4 linked regions of the Homo sapiens genome follow. The protein of the gene in region 3 interacts with the protein of the main gene of each other region in a biochemical or structural test. Each region holds a gene or a part of one and is shown on either strand. Other genes may lie near its edges.

Region 1 (4,496 bases), on a different chromosome or scaffold from region 3:
AGACATTGTAGGTTTATATATTTATTAGGACACTCTTATTTTTATTTTTTATTTTTTGAGATGGAGTCTTACTCTGTCACCCAGGCTGGAGTGCAGTGGCAGGATCTTGGCTCACTGCAAGCTCCGCCTCCTGGGTTCATGCTATTCTCCTGCCTCAGCCTCCCGAGTAGCTGGGACTACAGGCACCCGCCACCACGCCTGGCTAATTTTTTCTATTTTTCAGTAGAGACAGGGTTTCACCGTGTTAGCCAGGATGGTCTTGATCTCCTGACCTTGTGATCCACCTGCCTTAGCCTCCCAAAGTGCTGGGATTACAGGCGTGAGCCACCGCGCCTGGTCTTTTTTTTAAAGGCAGGGTCTCACTCTGTCACCCAGGCTGGAGTGCAGTGGCATGATCATAGCTCACTGCAGCCTTGTAGGCTCAAGCAATCCTCCAATCTCAGCCTCCCATAGCTGGGACTACAGGCGCTTACCTGGCTAGTTTTTGTATTTTTAGTAGAGATGGGGGTCTCATTATGTTGCCCAGACTGGTCTCAAATGCCTGGGCTCAAACAATCTGCCTGCCTTGGCCTCCCAAAGTGCTGGGATTACAGGCATGAGTCACCGCACCCGGCCTATTAGGACAGTTTTCTAACAGGTGGAATCAGAGTTTCTTGGAGGCAAAGATACCTTTTTGTAATCCACATAAAAGTGAAGGGGTAGGGGTGGCCTTGAGTTCTAGGTCTCTTTTGCGTTTTTTTTTTTTTTTTTTTTTTTTTTTTTTGAGACAGGGCTTTGCTCTGTTGCCCAGGCTGGAGTGCAGTGGCATGACTTCGGCTCACTGAAACCTCCTTCTCCCGGGTTCAAGTGATTTTCGTGGCTCAGCCTCCCAAGTAGCTGGGATTACAGGTGCCTGCCACCATGCCCAGCTATTTTTTTTGTATTTTTAGTAGAGATGGGGTTTCACCATGTTGGCCAGGCTGGTCTCGAACTCCTGGCCTCAAGCAATCCACACACCTTGGCCTCCCAAAGTGTTGAGATTACAGGCATGAGCCACCTCGTCTGGCCTCTTTTAGCTTTTCTGATTCTTTCTGACGTTGCACTCAGCATTCCTAGTTGTCTACCCCATCCTCAAAAGTTTCCAGTGTCCCCACCATCGGCTTCACCACCATTCTCTTTTTCTCTCTCTCCAGAAATACTGCCTGGTGACCAGCAGGTGAGAGCAACCTGGCCCTGTCCCTTTGCCCGACTTGTCCCAGTCTTCTAGGGACACCAGCCGGCTCACTCTCCACTCACTATTGTGCCTGCACACCCGCAATTCAGTCTGCTGCCCCACCCCTGCCTGAACACAAGGTTGTAGACAGAAATGATCTGGAAGGATCCTTTCACTCAGGGACCTCCTAGATTGGTGCCGTGAGACACATGTGGGTGGGGACACAGGCGTCACTGTGTGCTCAGTGTGGCCGTTGAGGGAAAGAGGTGGCCAGGGATGGAGTGAATGTTTGAGTTGGGGCCTGGAGGGATGAACAGGAGCTGGCTAGGCAAAGCGTTGGGAGAAGAAGGGCATTGTGAGGAGAAAGGCATTGCGGGGAGAAGGGCATTGCTGAGAGAAGAAGGGTATTGCTGGGAGAAGAACATTGCTGGGAAAAGAAGGGCATTGCTGGGAGAAGGGCATTATGGGGAGAAGGGCATTGCGGGGAGAAGGGCACTGCTGGGAGAAGGGCATTGCTGGGAGAAGGGCATTTCTGGGAGAAGAAGGACATTGCTGGGAGAAGAAGGGCATTGCTGGGAGAAGGGCATTATGGGGAGAAGGGCATTGCAGGGAGAAGGGCATTGTGGGGAGAAGGGCATTGTGGGGAGAAGGGCACTGCGGGGAGAAGGGCATTGCTGGGGAGAAGGGCATTGGGAGAAGGGCATTGCTGGGAGAAGGGCATTGCTGGGAGAAGAAGGGCATTGCTAGGAGAAGGGCATTGCTGGGAGAAGAAGGGCATTGTGGGGAGAAGGGCATTGCGGGGAGAAAGGCATTGCTGGGAGAAGAAGCGCACTGTGGGGAGAAGGGCATTGCTGGGAGAAGGGCATTGCTGGGAGAAGGGCATTGCGGGGAGAAGGGTATTGCTGGGAGAAGAAGGGCATTGCAGAGAGAAGGGCATTGTGGGGAGAAGGGCATTGCAGGGAAAAGGGCGTTGCTGGGAGAAGGGTGTTGCTGGCAGAAGGGTGTTGCTGGGAGAAGGGCATTGCTGGGAGAAGGGTGTTGCTGGGAGAATGGCATTGCTGGGAGAGGGGACAGCCAGCGAGAGGGCTGGCGAGTGGGAGGGAAGAGGAAGCTGCGGTAGTAGGTGTGTGCACACTGGCGAAGCTGAGAGGCTTGGACCTTATCCCAACAGAAGGATTAAAAGAAAATGTAGTTGGGCCGGGTGCAGTGGCTCACGCCTGTCATCCAAGCACTTTGGGAGGCTGAGGCGGGCAGATCACCTGAGGTCAGCAGTTCGAGACTAGCCTGGCCAACATGGCAAAACCTCACCTCTACTAAAAACACAAAAATTAGCCAGGCATGGTGGTAGGCGCCTATAATCCCAGCTACTTGGTTGGCTGAGGCAGGAGAATTGCTTGAACTGGGGAGGCAGAGGCTGCAGTGAGCCAAGATCATGCCACTACACCCCAGCCTGGGTGATAGAGCCAGACTCAATCTCAAAAAAAAAAAAAAAAGACCAAAACCAAATAAACAGTGGTAAAATAATACATGTAACATAAAATTGACAATTTTCAGCTTCTTCTTCTTCTTTTTTTTTTTTTTTTAGACAGGATCTTGCTATGTTGCCCAGACTGGACTCAAATTTCTGAGCTCCAGTGAGCCTCCTGAGTCAGCCTCCCTGAGCAGCTGGGACTACACTCTACCTCGCTCATTTTAAGCATTTTTAAGTGTGCATTTAAATTCAGTGGTGCTAAGTACATTCACATTGTACAACCATCACCAGTGTTTATCTCCAGAATTTTCTCATCTTCCCAAACCAAAACTCCAAAGGAAGAGTTTTAAGCAGGGGTGCGATGTGGGGAGATCCTGGAATCCCCCCAGCCCTTGTCCTCCCCCCTCACACATGCCTCCCCTTCCCCTCCCCACCCCCAGGCTGCAGAAGATCCTGGCAGAGTCTCCCCCACCCGCCCGTCTGGACATCCAGCTGCCAATTATCTCAGATGACTTCAAATTCCAGGTGTGGAGGAAGATGTTCCGGGCTCTGATGCCAGGTACCGGGAGGGACTGGCTCAGGTTTGTGTGTGACCAGGCAGTTGATGGGAGGCCCTAGCCACCCTGGAGAGGCCTCCCAGTCCCAACTGGGGAGGCCACTGAAGGAGGTACCCATTGCCCCTTTGCCTCTGGACTGCCGCTGCAGTCCTCTAACCTGTGTTGGGAGGAGGGCCTTTGAGAGCATGGGGTTTGCAGTGGGTGACTGACATGAAAATGCTGCTGCTGTTGGTGGCACGGGACGCTGGGGCCTAGGTCTGAGCCACTGACTTGCTGTGTGATCCTTGGTCAGTCTCTGCCCCTCTCTGGACGGTGGAGATGATAAATCCTGCCAATTGGGGACTGAGGCTCTGCAGAGCTCCTGGAACCCTGGGGACTGGCCTGGGTCAGAGAGTGACTCTGGCGGCCTGTGGCTGGGGAGGCCCAAGGGCTCAGTTCCTCCCCCCAAGAGCTGGATGATGCAGGTTACAGAGCTCTGGGACATACACATTGCTGGGGCAGCCCTTCCTGCCTCAGCGCAGGTGGGAATGCAGACAGCCTCATTTTATTCAAGATAAAACTAAGGCTCAGAGACTGGGTCTAGGCTGATGTGAAGATCAGGCTCCTTGACCTTGGGCCTTGGGCCTTGTCTGGGCCTCAGATGGTGAGTCCCATGCCTTGTATCAATTTAGTCCTGTTGGCCAGGCTCGGTGGCTCACGCTTGTAATCCCAGAACTTTGGGAGGCCGAGGTGGGAGGATCACTTGAGCCCAGGAGTTGGAGACCAGCCTGGGCAACATAGTGAGAACACCTGTCTCTACAAAAACTTAAAAAAATTAGCCAGGTGTGGTGGCACGTGGCTGTAGTCCCAGCTACTTGGGAGATGGGAGATGGGAGGATTGCTTGAGCCTGGGAGTTGGAAGTTGCAGTGAGCCTAGGTTGCACCTGCGCTCCAGCCTGGGCGACAGAGTGAGACCCCGCCTCAAAAAAACAAAAAACAAAAACAAAAAACAACAACAATAACAACAACAAAAACAAAAAGAAAATGCAGGCCTGCCTGCAACCCTGGAGGGAAGCAATCATGGCCTCATCTCACAGCTGGGCAAACTGAAGTTGAGCCAGGTGTGATCTTGTGGCCCAAGCCCAGTGAGCAGAGATGCCAAGAGGATTAGGGGAGAGAAAGCTGGCCTGCAATTGGTTGGGAGAAGACCCCAGCGAGGCAGAAACCTAGGGTTTTCTGACCGTGTTCTCTCTGGCAGCGCTGGAGGAGCTGACCTTTGACCCGAGCTCTGCGCACC
Region 2 (4,496 bases), on a different chromosome or scaffold from region 3:
TCTTTATGGAATTCAACAAGCTGACTCTTAAGTTACACAAAATGTACAAAGATAGCTAAGAAAATTCTGAAGGAGGAGATCAGAACAGTGTAGACTACAGCAAGGATAATCAAATAGATTAATAGAAAAGGTGAGTCTTTGCAGGTTGGGTTTTCCAGAAGCAGCCACTGAGTTGGAGATTGGGGTGCAAGGAAGGAGTGGGAAGCAGGAATGAGCAGAGGAAGAAGTCAGAAGGCAACGAAGCCTGACAGCTCTGGCAGCCGGGAGCACTGAGCAAATGCCCCTCAGGCTTGTCCCACGTCAGACTGAAATGGCCAAGGCTTTATCCCCTCGCCTTTCTCAGTCACTGGCTCAGAAGGGGAGTACCTGGGGCAAAGGAGTTCACAGCTGCAGGCTGTTTGTTCACTCAGCTCCTTGCAACAGGGCAGCAAATCCCTCCTTGAGGGGGAATCTGAGAGGCCCATCACTGTGTCTACCACAAAGTCCAAAATCAATCCATGTATGTTTCTTAAGCCACACACAAAATTCGCAAGGTATAAAGAAAAAGATTATTGTATATGACTTCATGAAAATGGAAAGGTAGTCAAAAAGGAGAAATTGTGTTTAGCAAAGGATTAATATCCAGGATATTTAATAGAGTGCCTACAAATAAAAAACAAAAATAGGCCGGGTGCGGTGGCTGACGCCTGTAATCCCAGCACTTTGGGAGGCCGAGGCTGGTGGATCACGAGATCAGGAGATCGAGACCATCCTGGCTAACATGGTGAAACCCCATCTCTACTAAAAATACAAAAAATTAGCCAGGCGTGGTGGCAGGCACCTGCAGTCCCAGCTACTTGGGAGGCTGAGGCAGGAGAATGGTGTGAACCCAGGAGGCGGAGCTTGCAGTGAGCCGAGATGGAGCCACTGCACTCCAGCCTGGGTGACAAAGTGAGACTCCGTCTCAAAAAAACAAACAAAAAAACCAAAATAAAAGAAAAATAATAGACAAAGAACATAGACAATTCAAAAAAGAAACTGAACAACATACTTCAGAAAAGATATTTGGCCTCGCCAACAGAGAAAGGCAAAATGAACCCGTTACAATTTTTCATCCATTAGATTGAAATTTTTGAAAGATTAGTGATACAGTGTGTTGGTGAAAATGCAGAATAACAAGCAGTCTTCTGCAGTGTTGGTAAGAGTGGCGAAGTTTATTAGAAGGTGAGGCACCCAACAAACTCCACAAGCCCATAAGTTTGGCTGCAGTTCTACTCTCAGTAATCTATACTGCTCACGTGCACTCAAAGATGTAGTTTCCATTCTTTGCACCTTAGTTTATAAGAGTGAAAAATTAGAAACAACTCAAATGTCCATAAGTAACTGCCCTAAATTATGATTCATCTAAACTACAGAATACTAATAGCCATTTAAAAGAAAGAGGTGGAAACTAACATGTAATGATATAGAAAGATCTTCAAGATTAGCTGTTAGTGAAAAAAATAAGTCACAAAACAATACTTACAGTGTGGTCCTTTTAATGTTAAAGATATATATATTTTGGCCTGGTGCAGTGGCTCATGCCTGTAATTCCAGCACTATGGGAGGCGGAGTTGTACAGATCACTTGAGGTGAGGAGTTGGAGACCAGCTGGCCAACATGGTAAAACCCCGTCTCTACTAATAATACAAAAAAAACTGGCCAGGTATGGTGGTGCATGTCCATAATCCCAGCTACTCAGGAGGCTGAGGCATGAGAATTGCTTGAACCCGGGAGGTGGAGGTTGCAGTGAGCCAAGATTGTGCCACTACACTCCATCCTGGGCAACAGAGTGAAACTGTGTCTCAAATATATATATATTTCTGGAATGTGTGTGCAAATTCCTAGAGAGAGAATAAGAGTGATATGCATCACACTCTGGATAAGGCTTACCTCTAGAGAATGGAAGAGTAGGTGCTGAAGGAATGTTTGGATGTTATTCTATGTGATTCTGCATTGTTTGAATCTTTGGGGGTTTTTTTGGTTTTCTTTTTGAGACGGTCTTACTCTGTCACCCAGGCTGGAGTGCAGTGACACAATCTGGGCTCACTACAACCTCCACCTCCCGGGTTCAAGTGATTCTCGTGCCTCAGCCTCCCGAGTAGCTGGGATTACAGGCGTGTACCACCACACCCAGCTAATTTTTTTGTACTTTTAGTAGAGATGGGGTTTCACCATGTTGGCCAGGCTGGTCTTGAACTCCTGACCTCAAGCGATCTGCTCGCCTCGGCCTCCTAGAGTGCTGGGATTACAGGCGTGAGCCACCATGTCTGGCCTGTTTGAATCTTTCAAAAGGACTTTGTACTTAACATATTTGTGTAATAAAAATAACTATAAAAAGAAAATCAATTTGATAAAATTAAAATAACAAAAATACTTTTCATATTAGGCTAAGCAGGGTGGCTCGTGCCTGTAATCTCAGCACTTTGGGAGGCTGAGGTGGGTGGATTTCTTGAGGCCAGTTCAAAACCAGCAACATGGCAAAAACCGATCTCTACAAAAAACACAAAAATTAGCCAAGCGTGGTGGCGCATGCCTGTTGTCCCAGCTACACAGGAGGCTGAGGTGGCAGGCTCTCTTGAGCCTGGAGGTTGAGCCTGCACTCTAGCCTGGAGGACACAGTGAGACTCTGTCTCAAGAAAAAAAACAACAAAAAACCCTTTTCATGTTAATTAAAAACAATAAACATACAGCTGGGTGAGGTGGCTCATGCCTGTAATCCCAGCTCTTTGGGAGGACAAGCTGGGAGGATTGCTTGAGCCCAGGAGTTGGAGGTTTCAGTGAGCTATGACCATGCCACTGCACTCCTGCCTGGGCGACAGAGGCAGATTTGATCTCTAAAAATAAACATGCAAAGAGACAAAAACAATATATAGAATGCTACAAAGTGTGAACATAATTAATACCCTCTGTCATTCTCCCCTAGATCATGCATGTATTCATTTAGCTAGTATTTTTGACCACTTATTTATATAGCAGACAATCGTTAACAGCAAAATACAAATAAAACTAGGAAAAAAAAAACTTGAAGGAAAAATACCAAAGTGTTAACATTTTATCTTTGGGTGTAGGGCAAAACTATGGATAGGTTTTAAGAATATATAATTTTCTATGTTTTCTATAATGAGGATTATTGCTCCTATAAGGAAAAAGTTTTTTACTGTGGCAAAATATACTTAACATAAAATTCTCTATTTTAACCATTTTTAAGTGAACAATCCAGTGGCATTAAGTACATTCATAATGTTGTGCGGCCATTACCACTATCTATATCTAGAACTTTTTTATCATCCCAAACTGAAACTCTGTACCTGCTAAACGGTAACTCCCCATTCCTCCCTCTCCCAGCCCCTGGTAGCTTCTATTCTGTTTTCTGTCTCTGAATTCTAGGTAGCTCCTAGCAAAAGGATCACACAATGTATTTCCTTTGGAGTCTGGCATATTTCACTTAGCATAATGTTTTCAAGGTTCATCTGTTTCATAGCATGTATCAGAATTTCATTCCCTTTTATGGCTGAATAACATTCCATCATATGGATATACAGGTTGAACATCCCTAAACCCAAAATCCAAAATTCAAAATCCTCCAAAATCTGAAACGTTTTGAGTGCCAGCATGATGCCACAAGTGGAAAATACCACACCTGACACCTCTGCTTTCTGATAGTTCAGTATCCTCAAACTTTGTTTCATGCACAAAATTATTAAAATATGGTATAAAGTGACCTTCAGGCTATGTGTATAAGGTGCATATGAAACACAAATAAACTTCATGTTTAGACTTAGGTCCTCTCCCCACGATCTGTCATTCTGTACATGCAAATATTCCCAAATTGGAAACAATCCAAAATCCAAAACACTTCTAATCCCAAGCATTTTGGATAAGGGATACTACACCTGCACCATATTTTGAGTTCCTGCCTTCAGTTCTTTGGGGTATATATATCCGGGTGTGGAATTGCTAGATCATATGGTAATTCTATGTATAACTTTTTGTTTTTCTGAGACAGAGTCTCCCTCTGTTGCCCAGGCTGGAATGCAGTGGCACCATCTCGGCTCACTGCAACCTCCGCCTCCCGGGTTCAAGCGATTCTCCTGCCTCACCTTCCCGAGTAGCTGGGATTACAGGCATACACCACCACGCCCGGCTAGTTTTTTGTATTTTTAGTAGAGATGGGGTGGTTTCACCATGTTGTCCAGGCTGGTCTCAAACTCCTAACCTCAGGTGATCTGAGGTCCCAAAGTGCTGGGATTACAGGCGTGAGCTCCCATGCCCGGCCATGTTTAACTTTTAAGTACTGTTAAAATTGTTTTACATGGTAGCTACACCATTTTATATTCCCCACCAGCAATGCACAAGGATTCTAATTTCTCCACCATCTTACCAACACTTTTTATTTACCATTTTTATATTATAGTCACTCTAAGGAGTGTGAAAGTGTACCTCATGGTGGTTTTGACTTGCATTTCCCTATGACT
Region 3 (5,303 bases):
TTATCTTACTAGTTTAGTGTCATTTATAGCTTAAAAGGATGGTTTTCTCTAATCCTTAAACAGAAGACTAAAAGACTAGATTTTTAAAAGTGTCCATGCTTGTGTTATGTAGGTTGTTCCATAATCAGTGACAATGCTTTAAAAAAAATCAGAATTTATTTTTAAAAGTTGCCTCTTTTCTGTCAATCACTATACAAACTTCTGTGTGGTGGATGGGGGTAACGGTATTGTCCTGAGGCAATAGGGACATGACTTTGTTGATTGGACTGTTAATTTGTTTTATTTCTGGGTGATCTTTGACTTTCTTCTTTTCTTTCTGTTTTCTTTTCTTGAGACTCGTCTCACTCCGCTCCCAGGCTGCAGTGCAGTGGCAGGATCATGGCTTACCACAGCCTTGATCTCCTGGTCTTAGATGATCCTCCCACTTAAGCCTCTTCAATAGCTGGGACTGCAAGGTGCATGCCACCACACCCAGCTAATTTTTGTAGGGACGGGGTTTCGCCATGTTGCCCAGGCTGGTCTCAAACTCTTGACCTCACACAATCCACCCATTTCAGCCTCCCACAGTGCTGGGATCACAGGCGTGAGCCACTGTGCCCCGCCTGACCTTTGACTTTCAAAGGATGAAATTTAGTGTTGATATAACATCAGTGTTAGCATTCTCATCTAATGAAAATGTTAAAATAAGGTGGCTTGATTTGCATGACTGTTAATATGATGCTTTCTAACTTATAATGATCACTATTTACATTTGTAGATTTCTTAACCATTTGATTCTTACAGACATTTTTGTGAACTAGACAATATATTTTGCAGTCTAGAAACTGACTTAAATGACTTTCCTAAGGTAAAGCTGGTAAGAGGCAGAATTTGGATCTTGATTAGTGTAACATTCCCCTGTCTCTTGTTACTGTAAAATGACTAACTACAAATACAAGATGATTTTCTGGACTACTATTCACCCAGTTGCTATCTCATTTAGATTCCTGTATCTAATCCAGTAGCAAATTCTGTAGGTTCTGCTTTCAATATATGTACTAAATCAGACACTTTCCCCCCTGTCTTTCAAACCTCTGTTCACTTCCATCATTTACTGCCTGGCCTCCTGTATTAGCCTACTTTGGAGCAGCAGCTAGTGTTATCTTCTTAAAATATAGACCATGTTACTCCCCTGCTAAAAACTGTAGAGGTTCTCCATCACACTTACATTAGAATCTTGCCTTCCCCCCCACCCCTTAGCTATAAGGCCCTGCATTCATTTGGGATGCCTACTTCTGAGCGCATCTGCACTTCTCTCTCTGGGTCACTCCACTGTAGCCACACTGTTGCTTTGCTGTACCCTGAACAATAAGTGGTTGAGCTTATTCCAGTCACAGGACTTTCCTCCAGTTTGTTGCATTGCTTGCTTTGTCCAGTTGTTCCGTTCTTAGCTCATATGTCATACCCTCTACCTAACCTGTCCCGTATAAACCAGTTTCCCTTTTTCCTCCCCCACAATTTTATCCTCCTATCTCCCTTTCTTCTGTATAAGTGCTTATTACTGTTCGAAGTTATGTTATTTACTGTTTATTTCTCTCTATTCCCCATTAAACCTTCATGAAGTTAGGGACTCTTGGATATCCCGGGCATTGCTCATTCGTGCCTAGACCAATCCTTGGCACATAGTAGATACTGAAATATTAATAGACTAACTGAATAGATGAGCCTTAATCTCAATGAGCAATAATTTGACATTGTTACTCCTTGGTATATTCTGTCTGAACCAATGTCTGAGCTAAAAGTTAAAGCTAGTCTCGTTTTCCACCCATAAGCTCACTTAAAAAGGACATCAATCTTTTACATTATTTCTTTTTTGTGTGCCTACTCTGCTTATGTATCTTTTTTTATTAACTAGGAAATGCACACATAGAGCACATTTGAAAGGCTCTGAAGGATACGTAGAGAATCCCTCATCTGTCCTTCAGCATTCCAGTTCCCCTGCTTAGAAAACCACTGTTTTTGTTTGTTTGTTTGTTTGTTGAGACGGAGTCTCCCCCTGTTGCCCAGGCTGGAGTGCAGTGGTGCAATTTTGGCTCACTGCAAACTCCACCTCCCAGGTTCAAGTGATTCTCCTGCCTCAGTCTCTTAAGTAGCTGAGACTGCAGGCATGTGCCACCACACCTGGCTAATTTTTAGTAGAGATGGGGTTTCACCATGTTGGCCATGCTGGTCTCAAACTCCTCTTCTCAAGTGATCCACCTGCCTCAGCCTCCCAAAGTGCTAGGATTACAGGTGTGAGCCACTGCACCCGACTTCAACCACTATTTTTATTGTGTATCCTTACAAGAAGACCAGAGCAACTTTCTGCTATAAGTTAGGCGTCTTCTCCTTCTCATGCAAATACCTTGATTCCCTTCTCTTCCCCTCTAACCACCTATGTATCTTCAAGTTGACTTTTTTTTTTTTTTAAGAGACAGACTGCTGCTTTGTTGCCCAGGCTGGAGTGCAGTGGCTTTTCACAGGCGTGATCATAGTACACTATATACATACAGCCTCGAATTCCTAATATCAGGTGATCTCTACCTTCAGCCTCCAGTATCTGGGATTACAGACATGCATCATAGTGTTCTGCTTTGGCTCTTTTTTTTTTCTCAAAGGGCTGTTTAATGGAACCTTATGGTTAGACTTTATTTTATTTTTTCAAATATTGGAAATTTAATACTTTTTCAGTAGAGATGGGGTCTTGCCATGTTGCCTAGGCTGTTCTCGAGCTCCTAGGCTCAAGTGATTCTTCCACCTCGGCCTCCCAAAGTGCTAGGGTTAACAGGCATGAACCACCGTGCCTGGCCTAGACTTTATTGTAACTAATTGCTTATTCATAACTTTCAGAATGTTTCCTAAATTGTGCTATATAAAAAATGCTGTAACGAAGTTTTGTATGTATGGCATTTTGCACAAGTGTGAGTGATATTGAGTCTTAGTAGTTCTGTTTTAAGCTAGAATCTTTAGTTTCGTTTTTCTGCCTTATCTTCTGGACCAAAGCTCTTTTAGCCAATAAAAGTGACTGAAGCTGGGCATGGTGGTTCACACCTGTAATAACAGCTCTTTGGGAGACTGAGGCCCAAGGATTGCTTGAAGCCAGGAGTTGAGACCAGCCTGAGGAACATAGTGAGATCTCCATCTCCACCAAAAAAAAAAAAGTGAGCAGTTAAAGCTTAAAGTCATAAAGGTTAGGAGGTACCTAAAATGTCCCTCAAATGAGAGGTTCTGCATAATCCTGTCATAAAGGAGAATCACTTTCGGGAACCGATAAGTGAGATCTATAGTTATGGCCTTGGTCAAAACCAAATCTGTTTCAGCTTTACATGTTACGTTGATACAGTGACTGACATTCCTTTAATGGTCTTTTCAGAATTAATCATGAGGGCTGAGCACTGTGGCTCATGCCTATAATCTCAGTACTTTGGGAGGCTGAGGCGGGAGGATCCCCTGAGCCCAAGGTTTCAAGACTGGGCTGTACAACATAATGAGACCTTGTCTCTACAAAAAGATAAAATGAAAATTAGCCAGGTGTTGTGGCACACATCTGTAGTCCCAGCTACTCAGGAGACAGGTGGGAGGATTGGTTTGGCCCAGGAAGTTGAGGCTGCAGTGAGCCTAGATCGCGCCACTGCACTCCAGCCTGGGCGACAGAGTGAAACCCTGTCTCAAAATAGTAATAATGATAATAATGAAAATGATAAAATACAGTCTTGGGAAAAAGTAGTTAACTTACCCTAGGGGTTGACTTATTTGATTAAAACCTAGTGAGTCAACCTGCTGGAATTAGAATTTTACCAGTCTTTCGCAGAATTTACTTTATGTCTCCCTTCCCCACTGGTCCCTTGTCTATGGTGCTTAAAAATTTACTTAAGAAAATACATTTAATTAATTTTTTGAAACAGGGTCTCTGTCACCCAGGCTGAAGTGCAGTGGAAAAATTTACTCTTCTATTTGGTGTGATTTAGCCTCAAATTCTTAAAAATCAGATACAGTCTGATTTTACATTGAGACTTGAGTTTACTTTTTTAATAGGATTTTTTGAAGTACACACATTTTTTCCTGTTACTGTTTAAAAGCCACTCATTTGATAGGTATTCTAGTGCATAAGGTATTTTTTTTTGTAAGAAAAGTGATTTAGAAAACTCACCTTTTATTTATTTGAGACGGGAGTCTTGCTTTGTTGCCCAGCCTGGAGTGCAATGGCACAATCTCGGCTTACTACAACCTCTGCCTCCCAGGTTCAAGCAGTTCTCCTGCCTCAGCCACTGGAGTAGCTTTACTCTCTGCCTTGAACATTTTTTTTTTCTTATTTTGAGATGAAGTTTTGCTTTTGTTGCCCAGGCTGGAGTGCAATGGCGTGATCTCGGCTAACTGCAACCTCTGCCCCCTGGGTTCAAGCAATTCTCCTGCCTCAGCCTCCCTAGTAGCTGGGATTACAGGTGTATGCCACCACGCCCAGCTGATTTTTGTATTTTTAGTAGAGGCAGGGTTTCACCATGTTGGTCAGGCTGGTCTCGAACTCCTGACCTTTGGTGATCTGCCCACCTCGGCCTCCCAAAGTGCTGGAACTACAGGTGTGAGTCACCGCGCCTGTCCTATCTGTTGTTTTAAGCTCTGAAAATACTTGTCTGATAATGTTTTCTTCCAATTAAAAAAAGGCATGGAAAAGTTACCATGATGTTTCAGAAATATATGTACCTCCAGGTGGGGGCAGGGAAACTTAGCCAGGTATGGTGGTTCATGCAGTAATCCTAACAGAAGACTGAGGCAGGAAGATCCCTTGAATCCAGGAGGCCGGGGCTGCAGTGAGCTATTAGTGGCACCACTGCACCCCAGCCTGGGTAATAGAGGCAAGACCCTGTCTCTTAAATAAATAAATAAATAAATAAATAAATACAAACTCATTATGATGAAGACAGATTTGTTATAAGTTGTAATTAAAATCACCTTTGGAATTTAAGAAAAAACTTGTAAAAAATTTGACTAGGAACAGTGGTTCTTTAGTTCTTTCAGTTGTCTCACTTAAGAATTTTCTGACCTCTTCCTAGGAAAAAAAGCTATTTTTTTTAACGTATGACTTCTGGGGATTCAGATTCTTGCCAAGTTTATTTGTGGATTCCCTAGGTCTCCATGTGCTCCATGTTAAGAATCCTTGAACTGCTTTTGATAGTGATTAAACTTTCAGGCTCTAAAGATACTGTTTTAATATACTATCTAATGTTTTGATTATGAAATGTGAGCATAACTGAAAGTAAGTTAAAAATAGCAGTCAGTTCAGTATT
Region 4 (4,496 bases), on a different chromosome or scaffold from region 3:
AGGATCACCATTTGTCACTGTCCTCACCCTTTAAGCAAAACTATTACTATTCTTTTTTTATTTTTTATTTTTAGTTTTGCTCTTGTTGCCCAGGCTGGAGCACAATGGCCCGAACTTGTCTCACTGCAACCTCTGCCTCCCAGGTTCAAGCAATTCTCCTGCCTCAGCCTCCCGAGTAACTGGGATTACAGTTGCCTGCCACCAAGCCCAGCTAATTTTTGTATTTTTAGTAAAGACGGAGTTTCACCATGTTGGCCAGGCTGGTCTCAAACTCCTGACCTCAGGTGATCCTCCAGCCTCGGCCTCCCAAAGTGCTGGGATTACGGGCATGAGCCACTGCCCCAGCCTGTTATTATTGTGACAGAGTCTCACTCTGTCACCCAGTCTGGAGTGCAGTGGTGCGATCTCGGCTCACTGCAATCTCTGCCTTCAGGGTTCAAGCTATTCTCCTGCCTCAGCCTCCAGAGTAGCTGGGATTACAGGTGTCCACCACCACACCCAGCTGATTTTTTTTTCATTTATTTATTTATTTATTTTGTAGAGACAGGGTTTCACCATGTTGGCTGGGCTGGTCTCAAACTCCTGACCTCAAGTGATCCACCAGCCTTGGCCTCCAACGTGCTGGGATTACAGATGTGAGCCACTATGTCTGGCCTGAGCAAAATTATTTTTATTCCTTAAATTAAGGAAACTGATGTTCAATAATGAAATAAACAATCATAACATTCTGATTTAATAAAACTAAATATAATGAAAATTCAAATGTCAATGTCTACAAATTCCACAGACACTACATCATTGAAGAAAATAAATTCTATTCATTAGTCTTTTTTTTTTTTTTTTTTTTTTTGGAGACAGGGTCTCACTCTGTCGCCCAGGCTAGAGTGCAGTGGCATGATCTTGGCTCACTGCAACCTCTGCCTCCAGGTTTAAGTGATCCTTCCACCTCAGCCTCCCAAGTAGCTGGGACTACAGGCACGTGCCGCCATGTTTGGCTAACTTTTCTATTTTTTGTAGAGACGGGGTTTCACCACGTTGCCCAGCCTGGCCTCAAACTCCTGAACTCAAGTGATTCTCCTGCCTCGGCCTCCCAAAATGCTAGGATTACAGGAGTGATCACTGCACCCGGTCCCTATAATCAAATTTTAAAACAACATGTTATATTCATGAATTTTAAAAACTGATTTTAAATGTCACCATGAAAACTAGGTCCTTTTAACATTTGTTTCTCAAACATTACCTATATGTCCTGGGTATACAGTCTACCATCCAGCATCTAGGCCCGACACAGGCACTTGGACTTGGCATGACTGGGCAAGCCTTCTCTCTCTTCAGAAAACGGCCTGTCAGCATTCACCTTGAGATCCAAGCAAAATCTAAACCACAATTTTTGAAAGCAATCTTGTCCTCACCGTTTTGCACAGCTGCAAAGATGGCACATAGGGTTTCCCAAGTAATCTCTTGAAAATACACACAGGCCACTTTTTAAAAACTAACAACTATTCTTAATCACTTACAGACGGCCATCCAGTTGGCTATGATCTAGGCCCCCAGTTCCTTCTGTGCTAATGCCTATTTAAGAGCACTTCTCTTTTTCTAGCACTTTCCTCAAACACAGAAAAGCAGAAATCTGACTACTCGTTGACTTAAAAGTACTGAATGATTGGGGATATTGAAACTGATGGCATGGAGTTTTCCCAGGTTTCTAGTCACTGTAATTCATCAATTCTAAAATATCCTTTTTCTCATATTTCAACTTCTCTGAAATAAGGATGCTTCATAAGATGGACAGTATGTCATAACTTGACAGCAATTTTTTCTTCGTGGTACATGAAATAATGGCATATCTTAAAAGTGACAGCACACTAAAGTGAAAGAAATATGGCATCCACGCCAAAGGTTAGCCTTAAAGGTTTGTTATGAAGTGGATAATTATATGTAAACAAGTAGAAAGACCCCTAAGACAACAGAAAGTAGTGGTGACTGCAACCATAGCACAACTAGCTGCCACATCTCAAAGGACATAATGCCAGCCACTGACTGTAACTAGGTTAGAATGTGGCCCCAATTAAGCCAGATTTTTACCATTTTCATGAAATTTCCAAGCTTTAAAACACTCTAGAGACCACATTAAGCAGGGTTCCTGGTCAAATCGGGCCCAGCAGCCATCAGTTTGCAACCAGTGGTGTTTATTTCTCTTACATTATCTTAAATAATCTAGATAGTAAGACCTTTCAAGGCATTTGTCAGAAGGGGAGGATATTCAGCATGTTAAAAACTAGGCCTTTCTATTCAAAATAGCTGGCTCCATAACTTAACTTGTTTTGTGTCCTTATGCAGGTCACGTAACCTCTTTGAGCTTTCATTCCTCATCTGTAAATCACAGCCTACCTCACACAGTTCTCATGAGAACTAAATGACATAGTATGTGCACAAGGCTTAGCACTTTGCTCTCATGGCGCATCTTAAAAGTGACAGCATCTTAAACTGAAAAGCATACAGGATCCATGCCAAAAGTTAACCTTAATGGTTGATTAAGAAGTAGATAATTATATGTAAATGAGTAGAAAGACCCCCAAGCCAGCAGGGAGCCGTGGTGACTGGCACCTATAAGCAGATCTGCCACATCTCAAAGGACATAATGCAAGCCACTGATTGTGACTAGGCTAGAATGTGGCCCCAATTAAGCCGGATTTTTACCATTGGTATAGAAGAGGCATTCAAAAGTAGCCAACTATCCGTGTTTGTACAGGATAAGGAGAGAAGGTGCCATTTATCCTATGTCAGCCTGGCCTTCATTTCTATGCCATTTGCTTCATTTTAACTACTAACGAAATTACTTAATGTCATATCTAATGTGATAAGAAGCTGCCATTCAATCCCAGTATTTTGTTCAGTAGAAAAATCTTTTCAATAAATGATACCTTTCTAAAATGGAATAAAAGATTTCAGAAAGTTAGCGGTAACATTCATAAGTAAACTATGCCAAAATGCACTACAGATTGCCAAAAATAAAGAAATAAAACAAGAAATCCACAAGGACTCAAGCCAGATGCAGAAACTAGTCCAAAGTGTTCTGATTCCAAACCAAATCTGATCTTGGGCCATGAATCAGAAGTTTTGTTAAACTGCTAATCCCTCTAACACCAAAAGTCCTTCATCTGATGGTTTTGAATCTGGCTACCTAAAGTGACATGACTTAAATCAGGGTAAATATGAATTATAACTCACCAGAGAAACCTCCGCCCGAAACACACAGAAAAAATTAAACAGCACATACATTCACACAAGCAAAGCCCACATCTCAACCCCTTACCTTCTACAAAGTGGACAGACCTCTGCTGATGACGCAAGGAACAGCACCTAAGCCCTGTGCTTTGGCATCCCCGTTTTCTGGGTTCATGCAATGCTTCATCATCAGCAGTGCAGAGAGCTCAACAGTCTTTATGAGATGGGACATAACTAAGTGCACTCCAAACATACCATGCTTTTCAACAATCTCAAATCAAAATACGAATCTACTTTTAAGAAATGTGGTAGGTATGTGTGTCTACTTTGCTAAAAGATTTATGAGGTCACTCTTCTAAATAGCGGTCAAAATATCTTCATATGTGATATTCTGCAGCACACCAAGTCTGCAAACTAAGTGTACCCATATTTAATACGCCTTGGAAGAACAACCCTGCCGTTTGCTTCAGCGGGCATTCTACTTTCAGAGCCTGCTAAAATCTTCCATTGGTTTTTCTTACACATACTAATTCAGGGAGACAAAACAAGCTGTGCAAATTCAACAATTTGTCGTTAATATTCTACGAAGGCATTCCCTGATTCTCTGAAGGGCAACGTGACAGCATGAAACTGCCCATGAAAAACAAATACCAATGAAATGTGAAGTCATCAGAACTGCCCTGGCTTATTTTTTCACTGGTAGGAGAAAGTTGAAAAAGGAAGACGGCTGAGACTCATCTTGTGAAATACAATGTGTGTGGAACTAAATACTACCAGCGACATGGCAATAAATAGATAATAAAAGGTGTCTTCATCACCTCTTGCTATTTCCTATACAGCCCCAAATTCCCTTCTAGCAACATGCAGGAGTGAATCCAGTCACATGCCAACACACACTCGGACTCTGTTTACATTCCAAGCTTCACTTTCACACTAGACATCAGTTATGATGATTAGTAGTGACTCCTGTGGACAAAAGTGGCAAGATGTGCTCTAGGTAGATTCTGACACTCACTGCCAATGTAAATAAAGCACAAACAACAGTGACATTAACGTGTTTCATTTATCCAGCTGCACTTCCCAAAACACTCTTAAAATCGTTTTTTCGGGGGAGTTTTTACAAATAATCATGTTATTAAAACATTTTTTAAAAGAACCTAGGATGAAATGCAGCTGTCCTCACCCCCACCCCCCACAATACGTCAACCCAAGCAGCCCCTTTGTTTAGGAATGTCTGCGTCTCTGCAACTCAGGGCCTGCCCTCTACT

The links. The genes of interacting proteins can lie anywhere in the genome.
Region 1: the proteins of UBE2N (region 3) and TRIM72 form a complex in vitro, tested with the Homo sapiens proteins (one study listed by BioGRID).
Region 2: of the proteins of UBE2N (region 3) and RIPK1, one has a biochemical effect on the other in vitro, tested with the Homo sapiens proteins (one study listed by BioGRID).
Region 4: the proteins of UBE2N (region 3) and NEDD4L form a complex in vitro, tested with the Homo sapiens proteins (one study listed by BioGRID).

The regions. Positions count from the first base shown.
Region 1 is NC_000016.10:31,219,724-31,224,219, forward strand, and holds part of TRIM72 (tripartite motif-containing protein 72), read left to right. Parts: intron 1-1,172; coding exon 1,173-1,195; intron 1,196-3,103; coding exon 3,104-3,222; intron 3,223-4,457; coding exon 4,458-4,496. UniProt on the Homo sapiens protein: Muscle-specific E3 ubiquitin-protein ligase that plays a central role in cell membrane repair by nucleating the assembly of the repair machinery at injury sites.
Region 2 is NC_000006.12:3,098,599-3,103,094, forward strand, and holds part of RIPK1 (receptor-interacting serine/threonine-protein kinase 1), read left to right. Parts: intron 1-4,496. UniProt on the Homo sapiens protein: Serine-threonine kinase which is a key regulator of TNF-mediated apoptosis, necroptosis and inflammatory pathways.
Region 3 is NC_000012.12:93,434,505-93,439,807, reverse strand, and holds part of UBE2N (ubiquitin-conjugating enzyme E2 N), read left to right. Parts: intron 1-5,303. UniProt on the Homo sapiens protein: The UBE2V1-UBE2N and UBE2V2-UBE2N heterodimers catalyze the synthesis of non-canonical 'Lys-63'-linked polyubiquitin chains. This type of polyubiquitination does not lead to protein degradation by the proteasome.
Region 4 is NC_000018.10:58,046,331-58,050,826, reverse strand, and holds part of NEDD4L (E3 ubiquitin-protein ligase NEDD4-like), read right to left. Parts: intron 3,602-4,496; exon of another isoform or gene 3,317-3,601; intron 1-3,316. UniProt on the Homo sapiens protein: E3 ubiquitin-protein ligase that mediates the polyubiquitination of lysine and cysteine residues on target proteins and is thereby implicated in the regulation of various signaling pathways including autophagy, innate immunity or DNA repair.